7 linked regions of the Homo sapiens genome follow. The protein of the gene in region 6 purifies or fractionates together with the protein of the main gene of each other region. This does not show direct contact. Each region holds a gene or a part of one and is shown on either strand. Other genes may lie near its edges. The genes, in order: LRP4, KIF1A, METTL13, MLF1, DHX32, SLC9A2 and LRIG3.

Region 1 (3,334 bases), on a different chromosome or scaffold from region 6:
CTTGTTCTAGCCTTGAGAAGTAGTGGATGAGCTATGAAAAGACAGCTTTTAAAAATAAATGAAATCCTAGTGATAATTTGATCCACTCTCAGACTAACTATGAAAGTTGACTAAGATCAAACAGAGCTAGTGGCAGATCTGGGACTGGAATTAGCCCTCCATGTCCCCAGCTCCAGTACTTTTCTTACTACATGAGATAGTCTTGCCAGTGACCATCACTGCAAGGCAAAGTAAAGTTCTGTAACAAAGACCTAGAACAGAAATAGAAGATACATGGTATACATGCCATGACATTTCCTTCCAGTGCACAGAAGAGATGTCACTAGCCATATGACATTCTTCCCATTGGGTGCGAATAGGCCCTCAGGCAGCCACTACCAACCAGTCAGAGTCAGCACTCAAGAGGAAACCCATCTACCATTCCTCTTCCAGAGGAAATAAAGGTTTCATCAGTCAAGGAACTCTGGCCTCGACCTGTCTTCTCCAGATGAGCTGAAAACTCCAGCAGGAACCTCACACTCTTTATTGCTCTTCACTGTGCCCACATCCACAAAGGACTTAAAAGTGATGTCTGTAAGCAGGTTTTCCACAGCATGGGTCTGCCAGACAGAGCAGGTGCAGGATTAGTCATGACTCCAAGCCAGGCAAGGTGATTAAGAAAAGCTAAATTTATATTAAATTATCATAAAGTCCTAAAATACTGAACATAGTGGTTAAATAACTCCAGAAAGTCCAATCTCTCCAGTGAGTAACGTTAAAACCATTACACATGAGCATGGGAGAATCGCTTCCATTAGTTTAGGACAGAGAGATTTTGCTTTTTACAGAGTAAATCAGTGCTCAAATAGATACTTCCTCAAATATGTCCTTTCTACATTCTGAACAGCCCAAGTGCAATAAGATCCTTCCCCCTTTCCAATCAAGAAAATGCCACTTTTCTACTTGCTCTTCCTCCCCAGACGTGAGTCTAAGGACCCAAAGTGCTCACTCCTTTACTGCTTGTTAAGTGTAATGTGGGGAGGCTCAGAACTGGGGCTGACGCTACTGAGAGCAAGGCTAAGGGCCTGGTATCTCTCTCTAGCAGTCTTAGAACTGACTAGAAAAGAATTGATCTTGTCCTTTTTCACTTTGGTAGCTGATTTCTCAATACCAGTAACCACAGGAGAAGTTTCAACTCAGGAAACTTCCCCTAGAAATTCTCCCCTCCATTCCCAGCCCCTGTTGTTCTCTCCTGCCACTTCTAATTCCTGGGGGAGAAGAGGTCTGGGTCTGCCATGGGCTAGGAGGGCCTCATCAGTGGTGCTCTCTACCTTCCTACTCCTTACCCACCTCTTTGTATTTTTATTTATTCAGCCCTCCCACCACAGGACTTTGGAGATTGCTGGTGCCACAAGGCTTGGTCAGAAAAAGCAAATTAGGCAAAAAAACAAACAAAAAAACCCCACGAAGAACAGCTAGGGAGACGTTTTAGGGCAAAAATAAGTCTCAATTTCCCTGATACCAGGCTGAGACACGTGCCCTTTGTGTGAATGAGCATGAACCAAGTGATGGCATCCCACATGGAAACTAAGCCCCTTAGCTGAGGGGACAGCTGGAAGAGGAACATCACCACCCCGTAGCCACAGGCTTGCTGTCCACTAACTTAGATCCCTGAGCACTTGAGAAAGAACATAGGAAGTTCAACAGGAAGTTTGACCCTCATGGATACTTCTCTTTAGGCCCTGGGTTTCCCAAGTCTCCAACCTGATCGTTCTTTCTGACCATTTATGACAACTTCTGGTTTTTCTTTGAAAGCTTGTTTCTAGGTCTCTTCCCCAGAATCCCAGGACATGAGGGAGAGAGGGGTCAGGAGGTATACCATATTTGGTCTAGGCAGAGCTTCTTAGACTTTTCAGAGACTCAGCCCCCAAGGCCTAACATTCACTCAAGCCACTGGCTCACAACCTGGTTAATTTGAGCAAAGACTTAGGAAAGGTACTGGCCAGTGGTGGCACCAGGAGGGAATTCCTATTAGCCAGTAGCCTTGTGATAGGGGACCCAGTTATCTGAATGTAGAAACAGCTCCAGACATTCTAGGAGGAGGAAGAACAGCCTGAGCCACCCCCATCTCACCAGTATCTGCTGCTGAAAAGGCAGTGTCTCTTAGGGCAAGAATAATGTCCACTGCCAGCAATGGACCAGACACCCAGATCCAACTACCCCCCAAAGCTTTTTCATGTTACTAACACACTTGAGGCTGGAGGTTTCCCAGATGCCCATACCTGCTGGGCTGATTCTTCCTTCTTCTCTCAGCCTCTATCCTTCATCCCTGTCTTTACCCACACCCCCATGTCCCAGCCCCTGATGGGCAAGTTCTCTCAGAGAAGCAGTCATGCTGGCTGTGATGGGGCAGAGCGCAGTCCTGGGTCATCAGCTGCATCAGCACTGAGAAGCAGGCACTGAGGGTACTGGGGAAAGGGGAGGTGGAGCTCTACGCTGGTGAGGAATCACGAATAAGCAGTTTCAGGGGGCCCAGGATGGAGTACAAGATGTGAGGTTCATGGTAAAATCCAGGTCTAAATTCTCGTGATGTGCCATCATTTCTTGTGCACAGGTAGTTATGGACTCACGTGGTAAACAGCTCCGGTGAAGGCTTAGGAACAGTTATGGGGTGGGAGGAGGAGGAGGACAAGCACACAGAAGCGGGGCCTGCGGTGTAAGCGAGCACAAGGACTAGACGTCCATAAAGGAGAAGGAACAGGCAGGCAGGGAAGAGAATGTGGGCATTTAGACCTGGCTCTCTGAGGAGAGCTTGCGTTCATGTTTCCAGCCCGTGTCTGGCAGAGAGCCTCGTCTTTCTGGAGTGGCTGCAGTATGGACGCTGCTACACTCAGACTGCTCTTCCTGTAACAGCTGCTCCGTCTCTGTGTCATCCAGGGAGCCAGAGCTGGCCTGGATGGACACCGTGTCTGTCTTCATGCATACATGATCCCGGAGGAGGCCCCCCCGTGAGCTTCGCAGTTGCTTGAGGTCATCCCACTCAGCATCATCCCCAGACAGGAGGCAGATTCCCTCTACGATCTTGATCTTCTCCTTGGTGTAGTTATGGTCAGGCCCTCCCTAGGGTGGAGAGTGGGCAGATATGGTCAGTCAGTTGGCCTTCTACAAAGGATCCCATGGTAAACTGAAAAAGGAAGTGGATGGGGTAAGAGTAGGAGTGAAGCGCACAAAAATCCCACAAACAAATGGGGAAATGTGATTAAGACAAGTGTATGAGGCCTAGCCTAAAAGGGGAGAGGCAGCTGTGATAATTATTACCATTACCATACAGGAGGAGGGAAAACCATGGCTTCCG
Region 2 (4,040 bases), about 140 Mb from region 6:
GCTGTCTAGCTGGTTTCGGCGGGGCTGGGGCTGGGAGTGGGGGGCCCGTGTCTTGCAGAAGTGGATGTGAATCTCCCCCAGCCACCTGCAAGGCGCTCGCACGCAGCTGTCGGGACTGAGGTGAAGCCGGCTCTCCCAGGAGTGTGGATGAAATGGTTAACGGCGAGGCCGCTAGGGCAGCGCAGGCCCCTGCTGGGCGCCAGGGAGGCTTAGCCAGGCGACGCCAGGATGCCCATGGCAGGGGCTCGATGGCAGGGGCTGGGCTGGAGGGGACCCAGCCCCGGGGTTCAGGGTGGCCCGAAATCCGTGCACCCCCGCACCGCAGTGCGGGGAGGTTCCCATGGGCGAGCTGCCCAGAGGCTTTGTCGAAGTTGCCCAGCCCTGGGACGGTGGAGGGAGGACGGTGGCGCGCACAGAGATACCAGTCAGCCCCTGGAACTAGGAAGGCGGCTGGGGGCGGGTGACGCAGGCTGGGGTTTGCCGGGGTGGCCCCCGAGCGGCGTGTGACTTGGGGGTCCAAGGAAGTTAAACTGGACAGGCTGGGGTGAGGACAATGGGGGCCTGGAGAGGTGGGGCGAGAGGAGGGCGGGGGGTCCCCACGAGCCGCGGTAGAGGCGAGGCGGCGGGTCCGCGGGCGGGTTGCATCATCCGGCGGGGAGGGCCTGGGTCACTGCTGCTCTTCCCCCGGCGCCCCGGCCCCGACACAAGATGCGATTTCACCGCGCACCTGTTACACCCGGAGCCAGCATCCCTGGCGCAAGGAGCCCTCCCTCCCCAGCCCCGCCCGCCCCCCACGATGCGTCTGTCGCTGGCTCAGAGCGGGGGCAGGTGGACGTTTTACGATTTCACTCGAAAGGGGCCAGGGTGGGGGACGGCCCGGCGAGGGGTCCGCGGGCAAGTTCAGGTGCACGCGGGGCTTCGGGACGGGGCGCCGCCGGGTCCCTCCCCCGCGAGGTCTCAGGGGCACGCCGGGGGAGGGGACGCTGCGTCCGAGCCGGGTGTCGGTCCCCCACCCTCCGCGGGGCCCGCCGCGGTGTCAGCGGTGACGTCACAGCCCGGCCCCGGCCCCCTCCGTCCCCAGCCCCATCCCCGCGGCGGCCGCGTCGCCCGTCCCTCTCCCCGCGCGACAAACCAGCTGGCGACTGGAGCTCGGACGCCGCGCGCAGCCAACCAGCGCCTCGGGAGGGGCGCGGGGCGGTCCGGGCCGGGGGCGCGCAGCCCGTCACGCGGCGGCGCCGTCACAGCGCAGAGCAGCCGGCGAGCGGCAGCAGCTCCGGGCTCGAGAGCCCGCGCCCATGCCAGTGCCCATGCGGGGCCGCCGCCAGTGACGCCGGAGAGGTAAGGCCGCCGCCCGCCCGGCCTCCCGCGCCCGCGCCCCTCGCCCCGCACCTGCGCCCGGCAGCCCGCGCCCGCAGCCCGCACCTGCACCCACTGCGCCCAGGGCGGGGAGCTCCGGCCCGGCGCCCTTGTTGCCGCCCAAAGCGCAGGCACTGCGAGGCCCCTTCACTTCCAGACCTTCCTCCATCTCCGCAGAGAACAATGGGGGAAATTCAGGGGTGTCCGCCCTTCAGGTGCCGCTGGAAAAGGTCCCTTTGCCGCGATCTCGGCTGCAGCGGGACCCTCGGCTTAGGCGGGCGGGGGTCGCCCTCGGGAGGGCTCGCCCGGCCGGCGGGATCGGGATACCCCCGCCCTTCCCCGGCTATTCCGCTTCCCTGGAGAGGAGCCACCGGCGGGGCTGCGGGAGGGGCTGCGCCCAGACGGCGGGGGAGGGGAGGGATGGTGAGCGGGGCTGAGGACGCTGACGCCGCACCTGGGAGGGTGCGCGGCTGCAGCGCCTCGGCCCGAGGGGAGAGCGCGCAGGGCGGCCGGGCGCGGGCAGCTGCTCCGGTTCCCGGGGTGGGGGAGGGCGGATGCTGGAGCCGGGAGCAAAACAGGCGGGCGGGGCGGGGGCTGCGGCGTTGGGGCCTGGCCACCCGCTTCGTTGCACGGCCGGCCTGCCCATCACCCCCTCCCACGCCAGAGACCCCAGCTCCCTTCCAGAAAGACCCAGCACCTGGGAGGGGCCGCCGGCGAGCACTGCCTGCGTCTCAGCAGCCAGCGCCCCTGTAACAGGTGTGGCCCGGCGGCGAGGGAGGGGCTGCGGGGCCGCAGGGTCTAGGCTGGCGGCGCGCCCCCGGCGCCCGGGCTCGGATGACACGAAGGAACAGTGGCCGCGAAGACCTTCGCACTCCCGCTTTAAGCCGCTCCTCACGCTGACTTCCCCCAAACCAGCCGCGCTGCCCTCTCGCTGGGAAGGGCCGGGGCAGCATCCCCGCCGGGAGGGAGGGTCCGCAGGAGCGGGGCGCTGGGCGCCGGTAGGTGGGGTTGGGGGGGCCCTGCCGGCCGCAGGGGCGGGAGGGGGAGGGGAAGGAGGGAATGCCAAGTCATGGGGCCTGCTGGGCGCGAGCGCGACGTCGCCCGGCGCGGACCCGATGCGCGCCCACGTCCCCGGGAATAGGGACTTTCCCCCAGAGACTGGAGGACCCCTTCCCCAAGCGTCAGCCCTTTCCAAGGGGTGCCTGCATTGCTGGAATTAAAGGCCTGCCAGGGCAAGCGGATTGGATCTTGCGGCTGCGGAGAGGAGGCGGTGCGGAGAGGCCCCTGCCTCGCAGGGCTGGCACTGGCCTCACCCTGGGGACGCACAGCGCGACACCGTGCTCGGCTCTGCGGGACACCAGGTCGCACTCAGGCTGGCGGGGCCTTTGCCAGGGAAGCCATGCCAGCACCCTCGTGGTGTGAGAAGGCAGCAGAGGGTTTGAAGGGAAGCTCTGGGGTCCACGTGGGGGTTGGGGCTGCACCTGCGGCGGCCATTTTGCAGGTGTGGTTGGCCACCAGCCTTAGCCAGGCTGTGGAGTGGGGCAGTCAGGAGTGGGGCAGTCAGGAGTGGAGCAGATGTGGAGCTTGCGGTGCAGGGTGTGGGATGGGCCAGGGCCAGGGCTCAGGTCTGCCCTTGCACTGAACACACACCGTCTATTTAGAGGGGTTCCTTGTTTGGTTGATGGGGTGGTTGGAGTCAAGACCCAGGAACCCTCTGGACCGGAGGGATGAGGAGGGATGCGGTAAGGCCGCTGGCTGAGGGGCCCAGCGTGGGATCGGAGGAGGGCAGCCTTTACCCGGGGTGAAGTCTCGGGAGGGTGCTGGGTCCAAGGCAGGGCCCGGATGAACAGCTTCACTCCGGCTGCAGATGGATCTGAGGCCCTGCAGGTGTCCTCCCCGGGCAGGTCCGCAGGGTGGACAGAGGCTGGAATCAGTTGTCAAGGCAGGGGTCCCGGGCCGGGCCCAGGGAGGTCCCTGTGGTGAGGGCCTGCAAGATGTCTGCTGTGTGCCAGCCCTGCTCCCAGCCGGGTGCTGCCCCCCTGGGTGCCTCCTTTCCCCCTTCCCCACTGGAATGTCCCACAGACTGCCCCATCTGGGGCTCCAGCCGGCCAGCCACAAACAGGTGGAGCCTGGAGTTCTGCCCAAAGCCCAGGGATGATGCTTGGCTGGATCAGGATTAAAACTGGGGTCACTGCCCGGCCGCCCAGCCTGTGCCCCGCAGTCCTCACTGATGTCATGACTGCTGACCTTGGGCCCACCATGCCCTTTGGGAGTAGGGTAGGGCAGTCCTCCTGTGGGATTTGTGAAGGGTGGAGGGGGAGATGTGAGCTGGAGGAGGAGGCCCTGGAGGAGACTGAGGGCATCTCTTCAGGCCACTCAGCCGGGCCGGCCAAAGCAGGTGAACTGGGTGTGGTGGGGACGGGAAGGGAGACGTTCCCACAGAGCCCTGGTCCTACCAGATTGGGGTCTATGGAGGGGCTACCAGCATTAGGTCATTGGGATTTACTGAGCCCTGCACATGCCTAGCTGGCCAATCCCGTCAGGCCTGAGACCATCCGTGCACATCTATCAGTGAGCTGGGAGGGGCCTGAGCCGCTACCACGGGTGGAGAGTGGTGGGCCTGGGTCTCTGGGTGGCTGTGATTGGTAGGATGAGCACGTGGTTGTCTGCCTGCAGAGTCTGGG
Region 3 (3,279 bases), on a different chromosome or scaffold from region 6:
GTCACCTGAGTAGCTGGGACTACAGGTGGATGCCACCATGCCTGGCTAATTTTTTTATTTTTATTTTTTGTAGAGATAGGATCTCAACATGTTGCCCAGGCTGGTCTCAAACTCCTAGCCTCAAGCGATCCTCCTACCTTGGCCTCCCAAAGTGCTGGGATTACAGGCATGAGCCACTGAACTTGGCTGAATGTACTCTTTAAGTGTCCATTTTCTTTCACTCAACATGATGTTTGTGAGACTCATTCACAGTGTTGTGTTTACATGGCTTATTTTTATTGCTGTGTTATATCATGTAACTTAACACAATTCGCTTATCCATTCTACTGTTCGTATTTGGTTTGTTTCCTGTGTGGGTCTATTATAAGTGGTGCTGCCATTAACATTCTAGTATATGCCTTTTGATGAATTATGTTTTCAGATCTCTTGGGTATATACACAGGGTTGTAATTGCTGGATCATAGGTTATGGGTATGTTTTTGGCTTTTGTAGATGCTACCACACAGTTTTACAAAGTGGTTGTAGCAGTTCACACTCCCACCAGCATGGTGATGCTAGCTACTACATGATGCTTCCTACACGTGCTCTACTAGGCAGTGTGTTATTTAATCTTCATAGCAGTCCACTTTTTGGATGAGGAAACTGAGGTTGAAGATTTGCCAAGGTGACGCAAGGTAACAGTTGGGGCTCAAAGTCAGTGCCTTGTCACCTCAAAACTGGAGCCTTTAATCCCTATGTTAACAACCCTCTAGGTATTTTTGATTTGGTGTAAGGCACTGTGGTAACTGGCTTGATTTGGAATCTTAATTGTCAGAAGTCAAGATAACCTCGGCCCTGTCACTGGTTAATACTCTATGGTGTGTATGCCAAGAATGTAATATCCCTGTGGAGTTGGTAAATTTTACTTTCGTAGGGAATCACTTTCTATTGATTGATTGAGACAAAGTCTCATTCCGTCACCCAGGCTGGATTTTGGCTCACTGCAACCTCTGCCTCCTGGGTTCAAGAGATTCTCCTGCCTCAGCCCCACTAGCAGCTCCTGCCTCAGCCTCCCTAGCAGCTGGGATTACAGGCGTCCACCACCATGCCCAGCTAATTTTTATATTTTTAGTAGAGCCGGGGTTTCACCATTTTGGCCAGGCTGGTCTCAAACTCCTGACTTCGAGTGATCCGCCTGCCTCAGCCTCCCAAAGTGATGGGATCATAGACATGAGCCACCGTGCCCAGCTGGGAATCACTTCTTTCTCAAAGCTATTCTTTGAGAAGCTATTTGGGAAACTGAGGCTTGGAGAATGGTAAAATAACATGTGAGCAGCACAGAAGAGCAAGAAATAAGGCTGGAGTTTGTTTATGGCTCACATGCTCCCCATGCTTTTCTCCATCTGCCTTTCTATGCTGTGTATTCTCTGCAAACTCATCACCACCGTGTGTTTTAGTCCACCAGTCTCCCTGGGACAGGAATTGGTATTTTCCTCAAAGCCGATCCTTGTCTTTCATATGTCTCCTGATGTGAGGTCATTCTGACTTTTCTTCCTACCCTATAGGTGTTTTTATTCTCAACCTTGTGTGCCGAGACTTGGGGCTAAAAGACTCAGTGCTGGCTGGGCTCAAGGCAGTGTTCCCCCTCCTATATGTCCGGCGAATTGAGGGTGAAGTGAATGAGATCCTGTTCTGTCAGCTGCACCCTGAGCAAAAACTTGCCACACCAGAGCTCCTAGAAACAGCCCAGGCTTTGGAGCGGACCCTGAGGAAGCCTGGGAGGGGTTGGGATGACACGTATGTCTTGTCAGATATGCTCAAGACGGTGAAAATTGTGTGACTGCTTAGGCCAAGCAGCCCTCCTGCCTAGACTGACCTTGGACTCCCAGCCTGCCAGAGAATGAAGAAATACAACGCACAGTACTTTTGAAGCTTCGTATTTTTCTTGGTTTCACACTCAGCTACATGTGACCTCCAGCTTGGTGAGGTTGCCTGAAGATTAGGGAAAATAAAAATGTCCTTCCCATCTTGTCCTCTTCAGTACCACTTGGGTTGGTTTGTCTTTGCTTCCTACACCACGTCCTTGAGTGGAGTTCCCTGCTGAAGCCCCTAGCACACACTGCATGCCTTAACAAGTGTGTGCAAGCCCCTCAGAACTCAAGACATCCAAATTTTATTGCGTCTCTACTTATACTGGTTTGCTTTTGATTTATTCCTCTATTAGTTCTATAGGAGTGATCTCAAGTGAGATAGCAGAGCAAGATGCCAAAAGACCATAAATAGAGTAAGGTTTCTATAGATGTGAGACAGATTTGAGAGAGCATTTACTCTGTCTCCCTGTGGATGAAACTGCTGCTGAAATGGTTCCAATTTTTAGGAATCTGCTTACCCACTTCATTATTTGACAGCTTTCCTTGGTGACCCAAACCTTGTAGCCTAAGCCATTTGTCTTTTTCTCAGTGGAGGGAGTGTATGGACCTGGCCCCATGGCTTTGCATGTTAGAGACCTGGCAGACTAAAGTCTCTAGTGTTTGTTTGCTCACATTTGCTGAGTGACAGCTATGTGCCAGACTGCATAAAGGGTGGTGGCAGAAGTGAAAATGTTTAAGAATGACCAAAAACATTAGTAATGAAAGTTAATGTGTTCCAGGCATTCTTCTAAGTGGTTTACATGCACTGTCTCATTTAATCTGAGATAAAGGATACTTAAGCCCAAACTATATCTAAACCCAAATCTCACTTGGCTGGAAACATCAATCTTAACCATTTATTCAGAACCATTAAACCAATGATTCCAAGACTGGCTTGAATTTTGTCTTTCCTAATTATACCGAGGTTGACTTAATGAGCAGTGCCATGGAAAATAGGCATTGTCACCATTCACCACCTGGCTCTTCTTTCCACAGGCCCTTTAAAAATGGACCCTGACCTTTCAGTTGAAGCATACAGATGCTCTTCAGCCTACGATGGGGTTATATCCTGATAAATCCATCATAAGTAGAAAATGCATTTAATACCCTGATAACCCATTGTAAACTTGAAAAATTGTAAGTCAGAGACTGTCTGTATTTCAGTTAGGTTGTCATCCTTAGAAAGTAGTGTCAGTCTGTTAAGGAGAGGAGGGAGTGCAGAGAAGTGTTTTTAGATCTTACCCATTAGAAATACTTGGTTCTCTTTCTTTAGGAGGGGATCTTCCCCTGGAACCCCGTAACGGGAAGATTATCCCTCATGTCAGGTCTGTGTACCCCAGAGGACCTTACTTGGCAAGTCCTTTCTTTTTTCTTCCTTGTTTTTGAGACA
Region 4 (3,500 bases), on a different chromosome or scaffold from region 6:
CAACTTGAAGCAAATAGAGAAAAATGTTATGATATGACTAAACTGGGTGGCAGGAATATGGGCACTTATTATGTTATTCTCTATATCCTTTCTGTACACTTGAAATATTTCATGAGTTAAAAAATTAATTCACTTCAAATGTAAACTTAAAAATAGACATTAATTTCATGAAACAAAGGCTTCTTTTCGTGTTTTGTTTACCTTGTCAACATGTAAAGGTAATAAACATCCATAGATATTTACATGAAAAAAGGCACCCTCACGGGGGGGTGGGGGGGCTACAAAAAAAATGCCACAAACTAAGTAAATACAGTTGAGCTTTAATGGTTTCCACAGTGAGGACTACCTTACCCCCAACCCCCACACCTCCCTCCTGTCCCCCCACCATCTTGTACCAGATTAAATTTTAATAGTTAAAATTTGATCTAGACAGTCTATCATCCCCTAACTTTATAAAACTTTAGGAATGCTTATAGAAAACTTACTCCTCCTGGAGCTCGACGAGTTTGAGTTGAGGCCTGAAAAACCTTTGGCGGTTCATCTCCTATTTTGGAATAAGTCATAACTGAGGAAGAACAAAATGAATGTCCATTTGGATCCACTGAAAGTTGACCCTACAGGTAAACAAATTGTAAATTCAGTCGAGTCAAATATAAATAATTATTGCCAGAGAGTTCAAATAAGTAACAACACTAGCTGTAAGTTCTACTAAGGATACTAAACTACCAATATGGTGTAGTCAAAGGCACACCCAGGTTCTCAAGTGAGAAGTGACTTGAAAAATTACCTCCGCCCAAAAAAAGTCACCCCTAGAGGGTCCTAACGGTCGTCCATTTTAGGTACAATTATCCCACTCTCGTTACAAAGACTAATAAGTGACTCACTCAGAGATCCTTAAGTCTTTGGGTGCTCGTGGCTTAGATTTCAATAAAGATGCTATGCCCCCAAACCTGTGATACTTCTATAGTCAGTGGTTGACCCTTGTGTGTAATCTTGCCAACATTAAGCCAATCAATTAGTTATACATCAAGTTTCGTACCTCCTCCTGTAGGTACCAGATTGCTACATTACTAAAACCAATAATGCCCTAGATTATTTGGGCATTCTGAAATGATCCATAGAATTCAAACTGGATGACTAGAATGTTATGGGTCTTCTTCAGATCAAATCAAGTGACTGGTTTTGATGTTAATATAGAGAGTATTATTATAGTACTAGTTTATTTGGACTATTAGGGAACTATACCTAAACATTATTCCTAAAATTTCTGTTTTCAGAGTCGTTTATAAAACCCTGAAACTCTTCAGATGCTACAAATCCTTTTAAGTAGACAGGTTATTAATAATAAAATTATGCAAATTCATATAAAATGTTCATTTACAATAGTGACTTTCAATAGAATCAATGTTTTTGAGGTTATTTTTTTTCCAATTTTTAAAAAATTTTCAAAGTTAACATTATTTTTCAAACTTGGAGGTTATGAACTCAATTTAGTGGGTTGTAACCAGGATTTTTAATACATGAAATAGACTAGAAAATAACTGTATATACTGTAAATAGTATAGTCATTTTTTCATGAAACTTTTGCTTCAAATATATTTATAAAGTATACAAATATTGCTTATTGGGTTAATCATGTAAGGTATCTTTTTTAACCACTATGGTTAAAAAAGTGTTTGAAAGCCACTATGAAATAGAATATATCAAAGTATACACAATGTTCTCAATGCTTTGTTTTTAGTACTTACGAAGTTTCTTTCTAATTTCTGCATATAGTTTCTCATATTTGACACCATTTGGTCCATTGTCTGGAAAGAGCTGACATCTGTATGCTACAGAATATCAGGAAGTATGTTATTAACTGTAGGTAACAACACAAAAGATGCAAATACATCTTCCAAAACAGCTAAAACATTTTTTTCCAATTCATTTAGTGAAATCTCATGCAGTAATCAACCAGACAAAGATAACTTAGAGGATATAATGACAGTGATTAGTTAAGGAGAAAATTGAAGCATACACAAAATCCCAAAGAGCCAACATACAAATAATTAGGGAACTGTAACATTATAAATACATATATGTGCATGTATATATAAAAACACATACACACCTAATCACTCATTACTCACTTTTTCAAAACATAATTTGGTGTATGTTAAATACTAAGTGATACATTCTCTAGCATACGATAGTTTTCATAATTTTCCTTATCTCTCAATACTCCACCATGCAAATAACTAAATTTGCGTATAAGATGCCAGTGTCACCTCCAGCAGTACCACATGGCTGACAGAAGTTGTCCCTCGAGTAAGTAGCCAGCCTTCCTCTCATCATAGTAGGATCTGGGTGACAGAAATCAATTCACTTTACTAATAGGCCTTCAATTTGCTGCCTACTGAAGGGTCAGTAGGCTATACCCTTGAAGCATGAGGTATGTGTCTTCAGAAAAACAGTTAAGAATTCCTCTAAACAGTAGTTTCTCAACCAAGATTGATTTTGACTCTCAGTGGACACTGGCAATAACTATACTCATTTTTGGCTGTCACAGATGAAGAGAGCATATAACTAGCATCTAGTGGGTGGAGGTCAGGGATGCAGCTTAACATCCTACAATGGATAGGACAGTCTCCCAGAACAAAAAGAATTACCCTGCCCAAAATGACAGTAGGGCTGAGGTTGAGAAACTTTGCTCTAGGAAAATCTACCACTGATTTTAGGTTTTAAAATCTACCACTGATTTTAGGTTTTATCACTGGAAGACTCACCAGAAAATAAAAGTCAGGCACACATTCCAATGTGTTAGCCAGTAAATCATCTGTTATAAAACAGAATGAGTTGCTTGGTTTAATGAACTTCTCTGTTCAACCAAGCGGAGCTCTGAATCCTCCTAAGTTCTATTTGTGTCTCTGTGTTCTATTGCTATTGGATTTTTACAGATATAATAATGTAAAATAGGTGGGAAAACCAAATTCCTCCTTAGAACCTGCACTTAATATTGTAGGGAACAACAAAGGCACATTTAGGAAATACTAATATATATTTGGGTAAAAAAGGACTGAAGTAGAATTAATTTTGCATTTCAGAGAGGCAAACACAATTCAGGGAATATTCTGAATATTTGCTTTAACACTAGATTGAGAATCCGTTCTTATTTCATGAGATATGGAAAGGTTAACCCAAAGAAGGATAAAAAGAGAGAGAGGAAAAGATTAGACATTTGGGTATTTCTGCCCTCTTCTCAATTCATGTTCAAATCAACCATCAAAAGATGTATCTGCACTTGCTCTGGGGTGACCCAACACACTGGAGTGACAAAAAGTTGGGGTACAAAATGTAGTTGAGACTTCAGTGGGCCCTTAAGGCCTTCAAAAATTTTGTACACATTCTCCTCTTTCTTCCTTAAATGTTTCCTCCTGACTTTAAACCTAGTTAGTTCCTTCTCATGATTCAAGTATCACCACCTGAGAAAGGCCACCGCTGGTCACCTGTCTAATCCC
Region 5 (3,500 bases), on a different chromosome or scaffold from region 6:
GAGGTAAGAAAATAGAAATACATAAAAATAGAGAAAGACAGAGAGAAACAGAGCCACAAATAGATGGATAGAATGAGACGTGTGTATATTGCACTCACATACATTTATTTCCTTGTTGTGTCCACTGAGATGGCCTAAAAGCAATGATAGGCCGGGTGAAGTGGGCCTATAATCCCAGCACTTTGGGAGGCCAAGGCAGGTAGGTTGCTTGAGCCCAGGAGTCCGAGACCAACCTGGGCAACATGACAAAACCCCGTCTCTATAAAAAATACAAAAATTAGTTGAGTGTAGTGGCACACACTTGTAGTCCCAGCTACTCTAAAGGCTGAGGTGGGAGGATCACTTGAGCCCAGGATGTTGAGGTTGCAGTGAGCCGTGATCATGCCACTGCACTCCAGCCTGGGTGACAGAATGAAACACTGTCTCAAAAAAAAAATTGCAATGATAAACCAATGGTAATAGGTACTTAGTGTCCAGATCTTGGTTTCAAAACACAGTTCACCACTAAACGGAACAAGGACTCCTGGAGAAAAAAAAAATGGTTTCTACACCGGCATGCGGAATGTACTAGATGAACCTGGAACATCTTACTGAGCCAGAAAGCAAAGAAGTGCTCAATAATGGGGAAATGTCAAAAGGACAGAGAAGCCACATTGGGGGCAATTTGAACAACAAAGTAAGTAGGCTTAGTAATACATTATAACCCATAGAATAAAATAAGAATTTATGAGTCCACATTGACATAAATAAATGATGAAGGAGAGAAAGCTCAGACTTACAGAAAGATTCTAAATAATGTGTAGAAGGCATGTCAGAATTAGAATAATCATCTTTGGTTACTACTAATGTAATAATTCAAAGGTAAGAATCACCAAAAATGCTAACACTAGTGGATGAATGTGAAACTGCCTTTGCAGAAATTGTAACAGTGAGAAAATTATGATGGTGAAGGAGATCTGACCTGACAACTCCATCTTGCCTTTCACCCCCAAACTCCCTTAGCCATTCCTGCAGTGGGCCAAGCTAACTTTTGTAGATAGTTTATAGTTTAAATGATGACAGCAAAATGAAACTGCCTTTGTAAAACTAATGAAAGGACACCAGGTTAGGAGGATGAGAGGGGCCTGAATTCTGCCAAGATGTAGGTGTAGTTAAATGATTACCAGTCATTATTCCAGAGGTCACAAGATTTGTAACCTCCCTGTAAATAACATCACTATTATAGAACCTAAGATTGGCCTTCTGAGATGTCTTTTCAGGTTTTTGTATTTCTGACAACTGGAGGCCCTATAACTGGATAGACCAGTAACTCCTCTGTTGTCCCTACCCAGAAGTGGACTCAGCACATGAGGACTGTTTTCCACACCTCTGTGATTGCATCCTCAGCCAATCAGCAGTACCCATTCCTTAGCCCCCTGCCCACCAAACTATCCTTGAAAAACTCTAGCCTCCAAATTGACAAAGAGGCTGATTGGAGTAATAGTACAACTCCTGTCTGCTGTTTAGCCAGCTTTATGTGTATTAAATTCATTCTCTATTTCAATTCCCTTGTCTTGATAAATTGGCTCTATCTTGACAACAAACAAGATGAACCCATTGGGTGGTTACAAATGTATAATGAGAAACATTTACATACTTTCAAAATATGTATCTATTAAATGATTGGAGGGAAATTGTTAACTTTTCAATAAAGAACCAGGCAGATACCACCTTACCAAGGGATCAGAATTAACATCACCAGCATGGGCAAAACTGACATCTTGTGCCTCCTGATATGAGGCACTGAGAAGGATACACAGCACTTGTGTGATCTTCTTGCCACAAATGCAGAGCCGGAACCTAACCCTAAGGAAACATCAGACATGTTCAAACTGAGGGAGGTTCTGCAGAATATATAACCTGTGCTCTTCAAAAATGTCAAAGTCATAAAGGACAGGGAGAGACTGGGGAGTTGTGTCAGATTAAAAAACGACAATAAAATACAATGCAATTTTAGATTGGATTTTGGACCAGAAAAACAATTTTTTTCAGTGATTATAAAGGCTATCAATGGGAAACTGATTAAATGTGAATGTCTAGAAATCAGATAATAATTAGATATCAACATTACATTCCAGATTTTGATAATTATGTTACGGCTACACACTGTTTTTCAGTAAATAAATACTCTGTTAAGTATTTGGAGGCAAAGGGCATCATGTCCTCAACCTACCCCTAAATGGTTCAGAATAAAAATGTGTATGAATGTATGGAGGGGGCAGGGAGGGAAAGATAAAGTTTATATGGTAAAATCTTACATTTGGGGAATCTGGGTGAACAACATATGGAAAATCTTTGTACTATTTTTGCAACTTTTTGTAAGTTTGAAATTATTGTAAAATAAAAACACATTTTTTCAATGTTATTTGTCCACAGAAACTAGGAAAATTATACTCAGTCAGTTCTCATCGTTAGCTTCTCGTAATGAACTGAAATCGTTTGTTATAACAATAACAGCGTAACAAAGAACAAATCATAATAAACCTTTGATACTGGCAGCTGTAAATCAGATAAAAAACATCTGTTGTCCAGCCCTCCTCTTTTCAAATTACCTTTAAAGTAAGTTAACTTTAGGGCAGGTACAGTGGCTCATGTTTGTAATCCCAGCACTTTGGGAGGTGAAGGTGGGAGGATCGCTTGAGCCCAGGAGTTCGAGACCAGCCTGGCCAAAATTGTGAAACCCTGACTCTACTAAAAATACAAAAATAAGCCAAGCATGATGGTGCATGCCTGTAATCCCAGCTACTCAAGAGGCTGAGGCACAAGAATTGCTTGAACCGGGAGACGGAGGTCATAGTAAGCCAAGACTGCCCCACTGCATTCCAGCCTGGGTGACAGAACGAGCCTCTCTGTCTCAAAAAATAATAGTGATAATAAAATAGGTAAACTCTAGAGATAATAAACAACTTGAAAGCAACAATTTATAGTAGAAAATATTCTTTTAACTCCAATTCAGAAAGCTACTGACATTAGATAGACAAATTATCAAATCCTTCTGGGCCACAGTTTATTCATCTGAAAAATGAAGGGGTTCCATCAGTTTCTAATTCTATTCTATTAGAGCATAGTCTATTCTACTAGATCTATTCGTAACTTCTCTATGAGAAATGGGACTTCTTATTATTCACACTATATGGTCTATTCTAATTCTTACATCGCGAGAATCTAGAAATGAATTTCATGATAAAAATACTGGTTGCTTGCTTTAAAACTTAAGAGTAAAATATGGATCTCACTTGAACAAAAACTTGAAGTCCAAATACAACAACAAACTGAATAATAAGTATTTATTAACTATCTAATGTTGGGGCTCAGGACATACCTCCCCAGAATATGACTGAAGGAGACCAGAATATGTGACCCCAAAATATGCCTCCTTTGCACATTTTGAGAAAGTGTAGACATAGGAGTAGCTCTGAAAAGTTACCTTTTTAAAGATAAATTTGTGCCTATACAAGAAA
Region 6 (3,500 bases):
GCATTTCTCTGATGGCTACTTTAAAGTTCATATGGAACCAAAAAAGAACCCACATTGCCAAGTCAATCCTAAACCAAAGGAACAAAGCTGGAGGCATCACGCTACCTGACTTCAAACTATACTGCAAGGCTACAGTAACCAAAACAGCATGGTACTGGTACCAAAACAGACATATAGACCAATGGAGCAGAACACAGCCCTCAGAAATAATACCACATATCTACAACTATCTGATCTTTGACAAACCTGACAAAAACAAGAAATGGGGAAAGGATTCCCTATTTAACAAATGGTGCTGGGAAAACTGGCTAGCCATATTTAGAAAGCCAAAGCTGGATCCCTTCCTTACACCTTATACAAAAATTAATTCAAGATGGATTAAAGACTTAAATGTTAGACCTAAAACCATAAAAACCCTAGAAGAAAACCTAGGCAATACCATTCAGGACATAGGCATGGGCAAGGACTTCATGTCTAAAACACCGAAAGCAATGGCAACAAAAGCCAAAATTGACAAATGGGATCTAATTAAACTAAAGAGCTTCTGCACAGCAAAATGAACTACCATCAGAGTGAACAGGCAACCTACAGAGTGGGAGAAAATTTTTGCAATCTGCTCATCTGAAAAAGGGCTAATATCCAGAATCTACAAAGAACTCAAACAAATTTACAAGAAAAAAACATACAACCCCATCAACAAGTGGGCGAAGGATATGAACAGACACTTCTCAAAAGAAGACATTTATGCAGACAACAGACACATGAAAAAATGCTCATCATCACTGGCCATCAGAGAAATAATAGATATTTTTATCACCAAATGAAAATGTTACATTATATCCACTTTAACAATGATAACAATACTCAGCTTTATTTCTTACAGAATTATTTCACCTAGATTGAATCCCTAAGAAGTATACAATGAACTGTTTGCATAAAACCATTTGTTCTGGCTGGGTATTGTAGCTCACAACTGTGATGTCAGCACTTTGTGGGGCTGAGGTGAGAGGATCACTTGAGGCCAGAAGTTTGAGACCAGCCTGGGCAACATAGTGAGGCCCAATCTCTTCAAAATGTTAACAACAACAACAACAACAACAATAACAACAACAAAAAGCCAGGTTTGGTGGCCTGTGCCTTTAGTCCCAGTGACTCAGGAGCTAGTCAGGAGGATCACTTGAGCTCAGGAGTTCAAAGTTACAGTGATCTGCGATGATGCCACTGCACTCCAGTGGGAGTGGGCAAAGACAGATGGAGACCTGCTCTCTTAGAAACAAAAAAAACAAACTGTTCCTTGGGTGATATAAAAACTCACCTGTAAAAGCAAGTGAATTGATGGTTTTGGTATATGGATAGATTTTAACCAGTGAGTCCGTGGCTTTAATGTTTATAGTTTTATTTGGTTTATCTGTGTCTTCTGGGGTCAATTTTGGTAATTTGTATTTTTTATAAAATTATTATTTTGAGTTTTTAAAAATTTATTGGAAGTTATTTTATGATTTAAAAGATCTCCACTTTATATGCATTTATGTTCTCCTTTCTGTTTCTAATATTGTTATGTTTTTCTTTTTTTCACCTTGATCAGGTATGCAGGAGTTTGTCTATTTGATACTTTATCAAAGAATTAGCTTTTGGTTAGCTTCTAAGTTATCTGCTTCTGCTCTTACATTTATGATTTACTTACTTCAGCTTTCTTTGGGTTTATTTATTTAATTAATCCTTGAATTAAAAACTTAACCCATTAATTGTTTGGTTTACTTATGTTCTGTTAATATTGTTAATTCCCGCCTTACAAGAGTAAGAAACACCAATATTTAAAAACATAATTAATATTATTTTCAATAGTTTCTCTGCTGGTATTTTTATGAATCCCTGAGCTCCAAAATTGACATGCACTTATGCTAAAGTGACATCAGTCTTATTAAAATGAACAAAATTACTTCAGTAGCTTACTTACTTATTGAAACTCCTAATAAGACAATTCCCCTTATCAATTTATCCCAAATATGGGTATTTGCTTGTTTTCATTAAATTCAAATCTATGATATACTGTACACTTAAGACTCTGTCACAAACTAAACGTATTCATAATACTCAAAGTTTATGTAAATTCATCTTTAATACAAATAATAATAACAATAAAGAGAATGGTAAAGACAAAAGATATAAGGAAAATTATGCAAATGACATATCAGTTTCTGAATAAATTGCATGATGTCTTTACTGCTGTTAAGTAGGAAACCATGGGTGTTCTGAAAGGATTTCTTAACACAACATACCAATGATAAAACTGGAATGATGACTGCTTTTGATGGATCTCATCTCAGGATGCTCAGAGTCCACAAAATCAGTTTGATCTTCATGGAGCCAAAGGAATGCTTCATGAACTAAAATAGGATTATTCAATGAAACTCTTCTCAAAGATGAATTCTCATGATCCAAATGGGTAAATTTTGGAAGAACGGCAATATATGTATTTAAGGCTAGAAATATACCCCTTTTTTCCTACTTTAATTGTATTGCATAGGTTTGATATGCGGGGTTTCCACTGTCACTCAGCTCTCGGTATTTTTAAACCCCCTTGTGATATTTTATTCTGACTCAATAATTAGTTAGAATTTTACTTCTCAGTTAATAAACTTATGGAGATTTGGGGTTTTTGTTGTCATTGTCAGTTTTAGAGATAGGTTCTCACTATGTTGCCTTGGCCGCTCTCAAACTCCTTAGCTCAAATGATTCTCCCGCCTAAGCCTCCCAAGTAGCTGTAACTATAGGCATGCACCACCATGCCCAGTTGTTTTTTATTTTATTGACATTTTAATGCATTTTGGCTAGATAGGTATAATGCTGATTTTTAGTGTTGATTGTGATATCCTTTATGGCTTATTTTATGGACATTTTAAAACTATATTTTCCATTTATACTTGAAAAAACAATGTGTATTCTCTATTTATTGTGTACAGGATTTTATATACTTAGATGTATACATATGCAGACACATAGAGACTAGGTCAAATTTCTAATTACGGTGTTAAAATCTTCAATAGCATTACCAGTTTTTTGGTTACTTTATCAGTTCCTGGGGTACATTAAAATCACTTCTAAAATTGTGATGTCAATTACCATTTGTAATTGTTTCAATTTTTGCTTTGTTTTGATGCTATGTTATTACATACTCATTCAATATTGTTACATCTCCAGAGTGAGTTCTTCCTTTAATTATTAAGTTTTTAACTTCCTTATTTCCAGTACTTGTGGCTCAAAGTGTATTTTTTCATATAAAACTATTACCATTTAAAAGAAAACTTGATTTTGCGCATGTACTTTTTTTCCATATCTGTTTTCTATATCTACATTTTCCAGATGTATATTTTTATACCTATACTATCAAATGAGTTATGTTATTTTCATTTGGCTAGGCCTCATTAAACCACATAGATCTGGATTTTGCATCTTTAATTTCACATTTTAAAACACCGTAGCTTAAAAAGAGAAATGTA
Region 7 (3,850 bases), on a different chromosome or scaffold from region 6:
AGCATCTCATTACAACCTGGAACAGTGCATGAAAGTCCACTTCTGCTAGAGCCATTTTAGCTATAGACATATGCAATAAACCACTCGCTTGCTGTAAGAAAAGGGACGGCAAAAGTGAAACTACTTGGATAAGCATAAGGCATTAGACCACGTAAACCATTATTATAATTAAAGAAACATGAATTGAGCAGTGATTTATGGTAGTTGTACTATATTACACCAGATTATAACAACAAATCTTTTTTTGTTCGTAGATTTAGAAATAATGTACCTTAAATCTCTGTAGCTCCTTCTCGTTTACAATTGTGCTTTCATATGCACAATCTGATTTCAATCTGTATTACAACAATCCTGGGAGGTAGAAAAAACGGTCATTTTTGTTCATACTTTAATGGGCTAAATATAATTCCCATCCGTTTGAGACATGATAATGTGAACTAATTAAGCCTAAATTGTGCTAAAAATAATAAAAATTGTTATTGTATAAATGGGGCTTGGCATCAAATTGACACATTTTATTAAATATAATGTGCAAAATATAATGAAGTAACTTCTATTTAAAAAATGGTACAAGGCAGGTATTATTTAAAATGCTTTAGTAACTCATTTTCCATAAAAAGAAATCTGGCATTATAAAAATACATAAAATAATCATGATTTATATCATTAATTTACGTAAGATACTTTTTTGCATAAAACAAAGTTAAAAAATAGTTTAAAAAGGTATTCTTATATGAGCATCATTCCCAGTATAAAAATTTTCATAACTTTTTGTAATTTTGGTTCATCTGTATAAATAAAGCATTTTTATCCTTTTAAAATTCATAACTCCATTTAAAAAACATAAGATTCTCTCTCTTTTAAATAAAAGTTCACTTGAGGTAGTATGTTAAGCTTTTCCTTTGGTCTCATTCAGTCTATGTGTCCAAGTCATAAGACTGAAAATTTGGAGTCCTGTAGTTTTCTAAAGTCTGTTTAAAGGTACAAATGTGATTTTCTTCCTGAAAATCTGTCCTTTCTTTCCCATCTTCCTCTGACCCAGAGTCCAAGTCTGGGGAAGAATGAGCTTTCAAATAAAAGGCTCTTGGCTGACAATCTGATGGCTGTCCAAAGCTTGAATAGGCATCTAGGTGAGGTCTCCTGAGAGCTTTTCCAAAGGTACCTGAAAGAAAGAAACACCTTGAGCACATGGGTCCCTTTGCTAGCATGTGAATCAATAAAACCCATTGCAAATGAAGGAACATCTTACCCCATGAATATGAGTAAGTGTTTTCTACAAGTCCACATTATGGCACTCACATACATGTACATCTGTCTTACAGCCAGATCACTTCTAGAATGGAGCAAAAGACATTTGCCTTCCCTCATATTTACATCCACTGAACAAATGCATCTATTCTTTATCATTTCTCATGACCTGTAGTAATGTTAATGGTCATGCAATAAAGTTCCCCAATATAAGTTTCCCCACATCCTAGCTGAGAGCCCAATTTTGGTGACGGGTGTGTTGGATGGTAACATCCAAGTTAACTGAGGCTAAATAAAGAAATTTTCTTTCAAAATAAACCTGTGTCCTGCCCTTTCTTCATTAATTGTAGCCAAATATTACTCAATTGAATCAAATTCTTGCCTCAGTTATACAAAGCATATTATTTTAATTTTTTCCAAAAAAGGAATATAAATAATTACACTGTGATAAAACATAACATTTCGTAGAAGTTGGGTAAAATATTTGAAAATTCTCCTTTTTTAAATTTTATTGTCAACATGGCAAGTTGTGGCTGATTTTTCCATCTCTCTGTTCAGTGAAAAGATGACCTCAGCTCTTCCATCCTATTATCCCCATGCATCAGACGAAAAAATTCACTACCTAATCTCAGTGCCAGCCAGCATCTAACACCACCGACTTGGACCTTAAGGCTGGTTTTCTTGGCCAAAGGTAGTCCAGCTTGTCAGACTAGCAGTTGTTGCTAGGTAGGATGTTGTTTTCCACCCTTCGACTGCGGGTTCAGTTGGAAGCCACCAGACATACCAAACCACAATCATGCAGAGCACACAACTCCACCCCAAAGGCCGTGGGAGCCCAAAACCACTTTTTCCACATGGCTGACAAGCTGAGCTCCTAAGTCCTCCCCAAACCCTTGTCTTGGAGTAGATGCCACACACAGTGCTACCCAGAAAGCTCCTGAGGCTTAGTTATAGATTAAACACATCATCAAGTAAAATCCCACCTCTGACTTTGCTTTTGGAGGCATTTACACTAACTAGTCGGATGTCATGGCAGCCTCATTCAAGAAACCATTTTTTACCAGTTTGACATTCAAGGCTGTCATTGCTCTCTCACACACAACTTGGAGTATGGATCCTCAGACGAGGTACCTGATAACTTAATAAACTTACCCATGAAAGAATTACTCGAGGCAACCGACGCTGGCTCTGGATTTGCACTAAAATCTAAAGAGGACTTGTTTAGACACAGATTTTTCATTCCAGGTCCTTCATTGTGAGAGTAACTAGTGTTAAGTAGCTTCCTCACATGTGAAGGCCACGATATATTACTGAAGCTCCGTTCGCAGGATTCTTCTGAAGGATGAGAACATGGGTAGCACTCCTTTTTCTTTATGTAACTGGGCTCATAGTGGTCCATTAAAACTGTTCTTGGGTCAGGACTGCAACCTTTTTAATATGGGGGCAGTAACAGAAGGAGATTACAGTTAGCACATCTAGAAGTCTCTCTAAGAAACAGAACTGTACTCAAGCAAGAAAACCACCTACCTGTATGATATGTTTCAAAAGGATCTGAGCCATACACATTTCCCTTCAAATACATAGGGCCTGTGGATCCCAAAAACGGACAAAGGAACAGATCTGTGGCAGCTTCCACATCAGCTTCACTGCTATTGTCAATATGGCAGGTCCCTTTGAAACAAAAATCTTAGTCAATGATCCAATTATTCAAGTGCCATTCAACATTCTCCCCAGTTTTGGCATCTTCCATATTTATAGATGAAAGTTTGACTAGAACATCATATAGACAAAAAAATTGCAAAAATTTACAGTAGGGTTTTAAAAAATTTATTAGAGGACTTAATTAGCCATTGTGCTAGGTGTGGTGGCCTTATTGCTCACTTGGTTTCTACGGGAAACTGATATGTGCAGATCCTGCAGCCAAAGCAGCCATGGTCTAAACCACATACCATCAGCACTGTCCCCTTCTTACAAAAGGTCCCAGATGACCAGAACCAGGATTGGCACTTGGCCAATGACCTCTTAATGCCCATCTCAAAGATAAGCTCAGCTAAACATATCATCTCATGAGTATCTGAACCAAACAACACAGAAATATACGCCATTTACTGCTGGACACAGCAGGTGAAGAGTAAATGATATCATCAGGGTTAGAGATGTCACGATGACGCATGTGTCTGGGAAGCAGAAACTGGGCAGCAAGAGGTGGTGGGCTGAGAGAAAAGCAAATATGCAGAACGTGACACAGTAATGCTGGTGGCCCAGAGCTACTCTGGGAGCAGCCTCATCTCCAGCCTCAGCATCTAGGCAGCCTGGCATTATTATGCCCCAGTTCTGTCCCTTTAGGTTTTCCTTAAGTGTCTTTTCAGTTAACCCCATTATGCTTTAATGAGCTTGGGTCTCCACTCTGCCTCTAAACGGGTCTAACCAGAATACTCACTTCTATGCTCAGATCCTGTAACTCTACGCTCTTTATTTCTGGCTTGCCAAGCACTTTTAGTTTATCCACCTCTGACGAAACTGTGAAATTGAAAACATATACTTCTCTCCCAACTACAATGTCTGGCACAGAGCGTATAATAAATACTTATGGGAAAAGTTG

What was found.
Region 1: the proteins of SLC9A2 (region 6) and LRP4 purify together in Homo sapiens (affinity purification with mass spectrometry; one large-scale study listed by BioGRID and IntAct). This does not show direct contact.
Region 2: the proteins of SLC9A2 (region 6) and KIF1A purify together in Homo sapiens (affinity purification with mass spectrometry; one large-scale study listed by BioGRID and IntAct). This does not show direct contact.
Region 3: the proteins of SLC9A2 (region 6) and METTL13 purify together in Homo sapiens (affinity purification with mass spectrometry; one large-scale study listed by BioGRID and IntAct). This does not show direct contact.
Region 4: the proteins of SLC9A2 (region 6) and MLF1 purify together in Homo sapiens (affinity purification with mass spectrometry; one large-scale study listed by BioGRID and IntAct). This does not show direct contact.
Region 5: the proteins of SLC9A2 (region 6) and DHX32 purify together in Homo sapiens (affinity purification with mass spectrometry; one large-scale study listed by BioGRID and IntAct). This does not show direct contact.
Region 7: the proteins of SLC9A2 (region 6) and LRIG3 purify together in Homo sapiens (affinity purification with mass spectrometry; one large-scale study listed by BioGRID and IntAct). This does not show direct contact.

What each region holds. Positions count from the first base shown.
Region 1 is NC_000011.10:46,856,217-46,859,550, forward strand, and holds the end of LRP4 (low-density lipoprotein receptor-related protein 4 precursor), read right to left. Parts: intron 3,100-3,334; coding exon 2,767-3,099; 3' UTR 501-2,766; downstream 1-500. UniProt on the Homo sapiens protein: Mediates SOST-dependent inhibition of bone formation. Functions as a specific facilitator of SOST-mediated inhibition of Wnt signaling.
Region 2 is NC_000002.12:240,817,420-240,821,459, reverse strand, and holds the start of KIF1A (kinesin-like protein KIF1A), read left to right. Parts: upstream 1-1,240; 5' UTR 1,241-1,338; intron 1,339-2,182; exon of another isoform or gene 2,183-2,354; intron 2,355-4,040.
Region 3 is NC_000001.11:171,794,938-171,798,216, forward strand, and holds the end of METTL13 (eEF1A lysine and N-terminal methyltransferase), read left to right. Parts: intron 1-1,544; coding exon 1,545-1,819; 3' UTR 1,820-2,779; downstream 2,780-3,279. UniProt on the Homo sapiens protein: Dual methyltransferase that catalyzes methylation of elongation factor 1-alpha (EEF1A1 and EEF1A2) at two different positions, and is therefore involved in the regulation of mRNA translation.
Region 4 is NC_000003.12:158,595,194-158,598,693, reverse strand, and holds part of MLF1 (myeloid leukemia factor 1), read right to left. Parts: intron 1,833-3,500; coding exon 1,749-1,832; intron 615-1,748; coding exon 486-614; intron 1-485. UniProt on the Homo sapiens protein: Involved in lineage commitment of primary hemopoietic progenitors by restricting erythroid formation and enhancing myeloid formation.
Region 5 is NC_000010.11:125,874,793-125,878,292, forward strand, and holds part of DHX32 (putative pre-mRNA-splicing factor ATP-dependent RNA helicase DHX32), read right to left. Parts: intron 1-3,500.
Region 6 is NC_000002.12:102,626,053-102,629,552, forward strand, and holds part of SLC9A2 (sodium/hydrogen exchanger 2 precursor), read left to right. Parts: intron 1-3,500.
Region 7 is NC_000012.12:58,871,655-58,875,504, forward strand, and holds the end of LRIG3 (leucine-rich repeats and immunoglobulin-like domains protein 3 isoform 2 precursor), read right to left. Parts: intron 2,920-3,850; coding exon 2,776-2,919; intron 2,677-2,775; coding exon 2,401-2,676; intron 1,163-2,400; coding exon 918-1,162; 3' UTR 501-917; downstream 1-500. UniProt on the Homo sapiens protein: May play a role in craniofacial and inner ear morphogenesis during embryonic development. May act within the otic vesicle epithelium to control formation of the lateral semicircular canal in the inner ear, possibly by restricting the expression of NTN1.